2 linked regions of the Homo sapiens genome follow. The protein of the gene in region 2 interacts with the protein of the main gene of each other region in a pairwise test. Each region holds a gene or a part of one and is shown on either strand. Other genes may lie near its edges.

Region 1 (3,823 bases), on a different chromosome or scaffold from region 2:
GAGCTAAGGTGAGAGGATCACTTGAGCCTGGGAGGCAGAAGTTGCAGTGAGCCAAAATCGTGCCAGTGCACTCTAGCCTGGGTGACACAGTGAGACCCTGTTTCAAAACAAACAAACAAACAAACAAATAAACCAAAAGTATTTTGAAATAATTAGATTTATAGATAGCTGCAAATAAGGCCAGGTGCGGTGGCTCACACCTGTAATCCCAGCACTTTAGGGGGCCGAGGCGGGCTGATCACCTGAGGTCAGGAGCTCGAGACCAGCCTGGCCAACATGGTGAAACCTCATGTCTACTAAAAATACAAAACTTAGCTGGAACTGGTGATGGGCACCTGTAATCCCAGCTACTAGCAGGCTGAAGCAGGAGAATCACTTGAACCTGGGAGGCGGAGGCTGCAGCAAGCCGAGATCACGCCACTGCACTCCAGCCTGGGTGACAAAGTGAGACTCCTCAAAAAAAAAAAAAAAAAAGCTGGGCACAATATGGTGAAACCCTGTCTCTACTAAAAATACAAAAATTAGCTGGGCATGGTGGTGCATGCCTGTAGTCCCAGCTACTCGGGAGGCGGAGGCAGAAGAATAGCTTGAACCTGGGGGCGGAAGTGGCAGTGAGCCAAGATCATGCCACTGCACTCCAGCCGGGGTGACATAGCAAGACCCCATCTCAAAAAAAAAAAAAAAAAAAAAAGCTGGGCACAGTGGCTCATGCCTGTAATCCCAGCACTTTGGGAGGCCGAGGTGGATGGATCAGGAGGTCAGGACTTTGAGACCAGCCTGGCCAAGACGGTGAAATCCCGTCTCTACTAAAAATACAAAAATTAGCCAGGCACGGTGGCGGGTGCCTGTCATTGCAGCTACTCAGGAGACTGAGGCAGGAGAACTGCTCAAACCTGGGAGTCAGTGGTTGCAATGAGCCGAGATTGTGCCACTGCATTCTAGCCTGGGCAACAGAGCAAGACTCTGTCTTTAAAAAACAAACAAACAAACCAACAACAACAAAAAAAAACATACGAAATTTCTATGCACCTAGCCTTCTGCAGTGTTAACCTCTTGCATAATGATAGTATAGCACTGATATTAGAAAACTGACATTGGGGGCCAGGCATGATGGCTCACGCCTGTAAGCCCAGCACTTTGGGAGGCTGAGGCGGGTAGATCATCTGAGGTCAGGAGTTCGAGACCAACCTAGCCAACGTGGTGAAACCTCATCTCTACTAAAAATACAAAAATTAGCTGGGCATGGTGGCACTTGCCTGTAGTCCCAGCTACTTGGGAGGCTGAGGCAGGAGAATCACTTGAACCCAGGAGGCGGAGGTTGCAGTGAGCTGAGATTATGCCACTGCACTCCAGCCTGGGTAACAGAGTGAGACTCTGTCTCAAAAAAAAGGGAAAGAAAACTGACATTGGGCCAGGCAAGGTGGCTCAAGCCTATAATCCCAGCACTTTGGGAGGCTGAGGCAGGAGGATGGCTTGAGCTCAGGATTTTGAGACCAGCCTGGGCAACATAATGAGTGATGCCCCGACTCAAAAAAAAAAAAAAAAAAAAAAAAAATTAGCCAGGTGGTAAATGATCATAGTCCTAGCTTGGGGAGACTGAGGCTAGAAGATCACTTGAGCCCAGGAAGCAGAGGTTGCAGTGAGCTGAGACCATGCCACTGCACTCCAGCCTGGGTGACAGAGTGAGACCCTGTCTCGAAAAATAAATAATAAGGTCAAAAGCTTTATAGTTTTCCCTGAAGTCCTGAAGATTAGTGTGTACACAATGAGTAGTATTCAAACATGGAATGTTTTAACCAGTCATCAGGTTTTCAACCCTGTGGTAGAGTAGGTTATAATTACAGTTACCTCCTTAAGCAAAAGGAGCTTACTCTCTTAACACAATATTAAATGGAGACTAAATTATTTAATTTGCAGATAAGTTTAGTATTTTATAAATAAGGTCCTACCTTGCAGCAGTCTTACCTCTTCAATGTGGATACTTCCTTTATCTCTCTTTGTTTTTGAGACAGAGTTTTGCTCGTCACCCAGGCTGGAGTGCAGTGGCACAATCTTGGCTCACAGCAACCTCCGTCTTCCGGGTTCAAGTGATTCTCCTGCCTCTGCCTCCCGAGTAGGCATGTGCACCTACAGGGATTACAGGCATGTGCCACCATGCCCAACTAATTTTGTATTTTTAATAGGTTTCTCCATGTTGGCTGGGCTGGTCTCGAACTCCCAGCCTCAGGTGATCTGCCCACCTCAGCCTCCCAAAGTGCTGAGATTACAGGCATAAGCCACTGCACCTGGCCTTCCTCTATCTCTTTATCATTATCTAACAAGGAAATGCTACACAAATATTTCAGTTTTGTTTTATAACCTGGAAGCTTTCCTAACTAGAGTTCACAACACAGGATAAAGGATTACTACACCTTGAAGTAGTTTGTCAAGCTCTTTGGAGCCAGTAGTAATCTGTATGATCTCTGACCGCCTTTGGTGGAATTCAGTTGCAGTGGTGAAACCCATTGGAACTAATTTAGCTGCCTCAGCCTGGGAAAAATAAGAAATATTAAATCAACAAAATAATATTCCTTACCACAGTGATCTTGATGGCAAAAAAATATATATAAAGAAAAAAGAAATATTAGTAAAACAAGGTGTGCAATGGGAAGAGAAAATATCAAATAAAATTACCAGGATGATTTCTCTTTAGAAAGTCATAAAAAAGGATAATCTAATTCAGAGATTCCATGAAGATCAATTTTTAAATTGCCAATTCAAGTTAATATATTAATATAGTTTTAAAAACTATTATAGATCCGGCCGGGTGCGATGGCTCACGCCTGTAATCCCAGCACTTTGGAAGGCCAAGGCAGGCGGATCACAACGTCAGGAGATCGAGACCATCCTGGCTAACATGGTGAAACCCCATCTCTACTAAAAAAATACAAAAAATTAGTCGGGCGTGGTGGCGGGTGCCTGAAGTCCCAGCTACTTGGTAGGCTGAGGCAGGAGAAAGGCGTGAACCCGGGAGGCGGAGCTTGCAGTGAGCCGAGATCGCGCCACTGTACTCCAGCCTGGGGGACAGAGCGAGACTCTGTCTCAAAAAACAAAACAAAACAAAACAAAAAACTATTAGAGATCCGTACATATGTGTTTTGCCCAATTTATGACAAAAATGACAATACAGTACACCTTCATTTCCTGCTCCATCAACCGCAGACTGTATCCCTTAACTTCCTACTTTGTAAAAATGAGGACATTTGCCCTTCAATCTTTTCTCTCTCCATGGCTACTTCCCCACCTCTATCAGCTGTACCTTTTCTTTCATATTGTCTGGCTGAGAACATTCACATTCTATTTTGTAATTACAGATAAGTGTTCTGTAATAGCACTATGGGTTGATTCTAAAATTGAAAAGTAAGTGCATTCACAAATATGCAAAAATAAAGCAACACACTCCTAAATAAGCAACAAGTCAAAGAAGAAATGACAAGGGAAATCAGAAAATGTTTTTGCAATGAATGAAAACGAAGATATACCAAAACGTATGGGCTCCAAGAAAAGCAGTGCTTAGAGAGAAATTCATAGCTATAAACAGCTATATTAGAAAAGAAGGCTGGGTGTGGTGAATCACACCTGTAATCCCAGCACTTTGGGAGGCTGAGGTGGGAGGACTGCTGGAAGCCAGGAGTTTGAGACCAGCCTGAGTAACAAAGCAGCACCCTGGCTCTAAAAATGTTTTAAAATTAGCAGGGTGGCTGGGTGTGGTGGCTCACCTCTGTAATCTCAGAACTTTGGGAGGCTGAGGTGGGCAGATCACAAGGTCAGGAGTTCAAGACCA
Region 2 (3,823 bases):
GGTGTATCCTGCTGCTTTTAGCCTTTTCTTCATTTGAGAATAGCTGAGATCTTAACTCTCTCTTTCAACTTTTTGTTGGCTCTGGCAAATTTTTTTTTTCTTCAGGTCTAAATCTGTTGCTATAGCCTGATGCTGAAGTGTTTCGTCTTAAAGCTTCAAAAAAAGCAATGTTTTCTTCCATTATCACTTAATTCTGTGCTGTTGGCTTTTCCTCCTATGAGTAAGGGCCAGAAACCCTCTGAAGGATTACTGAAAAATCAACTCACAAAAGATAGATCAGTTGAAGAGAAGGCATGCAGATTTGTTTGGAGTGTGTATGCTGGAGTCTTCAGAATAAAGACCCCAACACACAGGGGAAATTGTCCTTTTTATGCTTAGGTGCGACAAGGTATGGGCACATATAAAAATATGATTGAGGCAAAAGGCATAACCTAATGCCAATGGACTGGGGAAACCCAGCAAGACCTGTCTGTCTAGATTCCTCTTGACCTCTCTGAGCATGTACTCCTTCCTTCTGGGTATAGGGATCTTATGACCTACAATCCAACAAGGTAAGTTGGATAATTTCTTTATGGCTAATTCATACACAGAAAGGGAGAGGGCAAATTAGAGTAATATTTTTAGACTTTGTGGCTGGTTTTGAGAAAAAGGAGTTCTGATTTCTAGGTTCTGCCTTGGGGAAAGAGATTCTAGTTTGTTTGGCCAGCTTTGAGGGATATTGGGACTGAGAGATAGGAGGCCAGGAGAAGGCCAAAGAAAAACTGACTTCTGAAGCTTTTACCTTGGGGCACTGTCTTCTGAGCTACAACGTGTATTTAAAGTCTTCGACGAAACCATGAAACTTCCTATGCTGGTACTAAGAGTCACGTATTCCCCTGCTCAAGTTACTAGTAAATTCTTTGTTAGTATTGTTCTTCAGTGGGTTCTCCCCAGTAGCTTTGGGTTGATATCCTCCCAGCTTCTAGCCTTGCAGCATAATACATGTGCTTAGATTTCAGCAAAAATGCCTCAATAGAGTTTCAATGATCTACTTAGGTCACATGCCACCCATCAGCCAAGCTTTGGTCCTAGAGCTGTTGTGTTTGAAGTGGTCCTACATAGTTTATGTGACAGCCCATAGAGCTCAATATGGGCAGCCTATTGTCCACACAGTAGCTAGACAGATCACTTTGATTAGGCGAACACTGTTCCGCTTATAACCCTTCTCTCATCCTGTCTCACTTTGATTTCTCATCTCGTTTAGAATAGAAGCCAAAATATAAGCATTGGCTCCAAGGCCACTGTTAGTTGTCAGATATCATCTCAATCCATTCCCCTTCTCACTGACTGTGCTCCAGTCACCCTGGCTTCCTGGATGTTTCCTCAACACTTGGGACAGGTTCCAGCTAAGGATCCTGGTACTTTCTGTTCCACTGCATGGAACAATCCTCCTCACACATATCCACAGAACTTATTCTCTAGCATCCTTAAAGTCTTAGTGAGCCTTTCTTTAACCACCTTGTTTGAATTCAGTGCTCTCCCTGTGCACCCACTAACCCCTCTTTTTGTTTTCACCAGGCACTTACCACAATCTAACAGACTGCATGTTTTATCCATTTATTCAGTTTCCTATTTGTGTCCCTTCAACTCCCATTAAAATATAATATTTTTGAGGGCAAGCAAGTACTAGAACAATAGGAAACACATCAAGAGTATTCTGTAAACTATTTCTTGAATCAATCAGTGAATGAATGAATTAATCAATATATTTTTTGAGTGAGGAGCTTTGTGTTAGGTACAGCTAAATGGGAAATCAAGTGGGTCATGTACCATGAATACCATATACTCTACTGTATAATTCTCCTGCTTATATCAGAAACTGTTTATAAGCCTATTATAATTGATACCAATTGGAATCTCTTTTTTACTCATCACCAAGAACACCACAAACAAGTTGTTTACCATTTGGCTCCTTATTTAATCTGGATTTCCAACTCCTCATGCTTAAAAGACGGAAGATACAATAATACTTTCCTTACAGGGTTCTGAGACTACTAAGAGAACTTATGCATGTAAAAGGGATTCATGCAGTAGAAATACTAACAAAAGAATTACTATGACAGATACTTATAACCATTGTGTTTTTACGTATTTAAAATACGTTATACCTATAATTAGTCACACGAGGAAATCAAATGCTAAAGTATGATATGTTTTTATGTTTTGTTTTTCTTGCTTAGGGGATCATGGACATTGAAGCATATTTTGAAAGAATTGGCTATAAGAACTCTAGGAACAAATTGGACTTGGAAACATTAACTGACATTCTTGAGCACCAGATCCGGGCTGTTCCCTTTGAGAACCTTAACATGCATTGTGGGCAAGCCATGGAGTTGGGCTTAGAGGCTATTTTTGATCACATTGTAAGAAGAAACCGGGGTGGGTGGTGTCTCCAGGTCAATCAACTTCTGTACTGGGCTCTGACCACAATCGGTTTTCAGACCACAATGTTAGGAGGGTATTTTTACATCCCTCCAGTTAACAAATACAGCACTGGCATGGTTCACCTTCTCCTGCAGGTGACCATTGACGGCAGGAATTACATTGTCGATGCTGGGTCTGGAAGCTCCTCCCAGATGTGGCAGCCTCTAGAATTAATTTCTGGGAAGGATCAGCCTCAGGTGCCTTGCATTTTCTGCTTGACAGAAGAGAGAGGAATCTGGTACCTGGACCAAATCAGGAGAGAGCAGTATATTACAAACAAAGAATTTCTTAATTCTCATCTCCTGCCAAAGAAGAAACACCAAAAAATATACTTATTTACGCTTGAACCTCGAACAATTGAAGATTTTGAGTCTATGAATACATACCTGCAGACGTCTCCAACATCTTCATTTATAACCACATCATTTTGTTCCTTGCAGACCCCAGAAGGGGTTTACTGTTTGGTGGGCTTCATCCTCACCTATAGAAAATTCAATTATAAAGACAATACAGATCTGGTCGAGTTTAAAACTCTCACTGAGGAAGAGGTTGAAGAAGTGCTGAGAAATATATTTAAGATTTCCTTGGGGAGAAATCTCGTGCCCAAACCTGGTGATGGATCCCTTACTATTTAGAATAAGGAACAAAATAAACCCTTGTGTATGTATCACCCAACTCACTAATTATCAACTTATGTGCTATCAGATATCCTCTCTACCCTCACGTTATTTTGAAGAAAATCCTAAACATCAAATACTTTCATCCATAAAAATGTCAGCATTTATTAAAAAACAATAACTTTTTAAAGAAACATAAGGACACATTTTCAAATTAATAAAAATAAAGGCATTTTAAGGATGGCCTGTGATTATCTTGGGAAGCAGAGTGATTCATGCTAGAAAACATTTAATATTGATTTATTGTTGAATTCATAGTAAATTTTTACTGGTAAATGAATAAAGAATATTGTGGAAAAACTCACTGTCTCTAAAGTTTATGAAAACATTGTTGGCTAATATATTGTGAATCAAAGTTTTTCTTTAGACGACTTAGGATATTATGGGGCTAGGCATTTTTTCCTCAATAGAGTCTTCCTCTCATCCTCTTTCTTGTCTCCTAGTTACATTCTTTTACTTCCATCCATACTTTGCCACAAGAGAAGGAACATGAGCTTTATTGTGTAGATCTGATTTGAAATCCTGTGGACACGGGGTGAATTACTTTTAAAATCTGTGGCTCTGATTCCTCAAAGATAAAATGCAAATAATATTTATATAATTCACTGCCAGATATAAATTTTCAAAACTATTTGTTATATGGATGAATAACATCATTAATATTGTGGTTGCTGGGCCAGCAT

What was found.
Region 1: the proteins of NAT2 (region 2) and RAD51 interact in binary tests that used the Homo sapiens proteins (3 or more experiments, as listed by UniProt).

The regions. Positions count from the first base shown.
Region 1 is NC_000015.10:40,704,883-40,708,705, reverse strand, and holds part of RAD51 (DNA repair protein RAD51 homolog 1), read right to left. Parts: intron 2,530-3,823; coding exon 2,412-2,529; intron 1-2,411.
Region 2 is NC_000008.11:18,397,779-18,401,601, forward strand, and holds the end of NAT2 (arylamine N-acetyltransferase 2), read left to right. Parts: intron 1-2,219; 5' UTR 2,220-2,225; coding exon 2,226-3,098; 3' UTR 3,099-3,440; downstream 3,441-3,823. UniProt on the Homo sapiens protein: Catalyzes the N- or O-acetylation of various arylamine and heterocyclic amine substrates. Participates in the detoxification of a plethora of hydrazine and arylamine drugs, and is able to bioactivate several known carcinogens.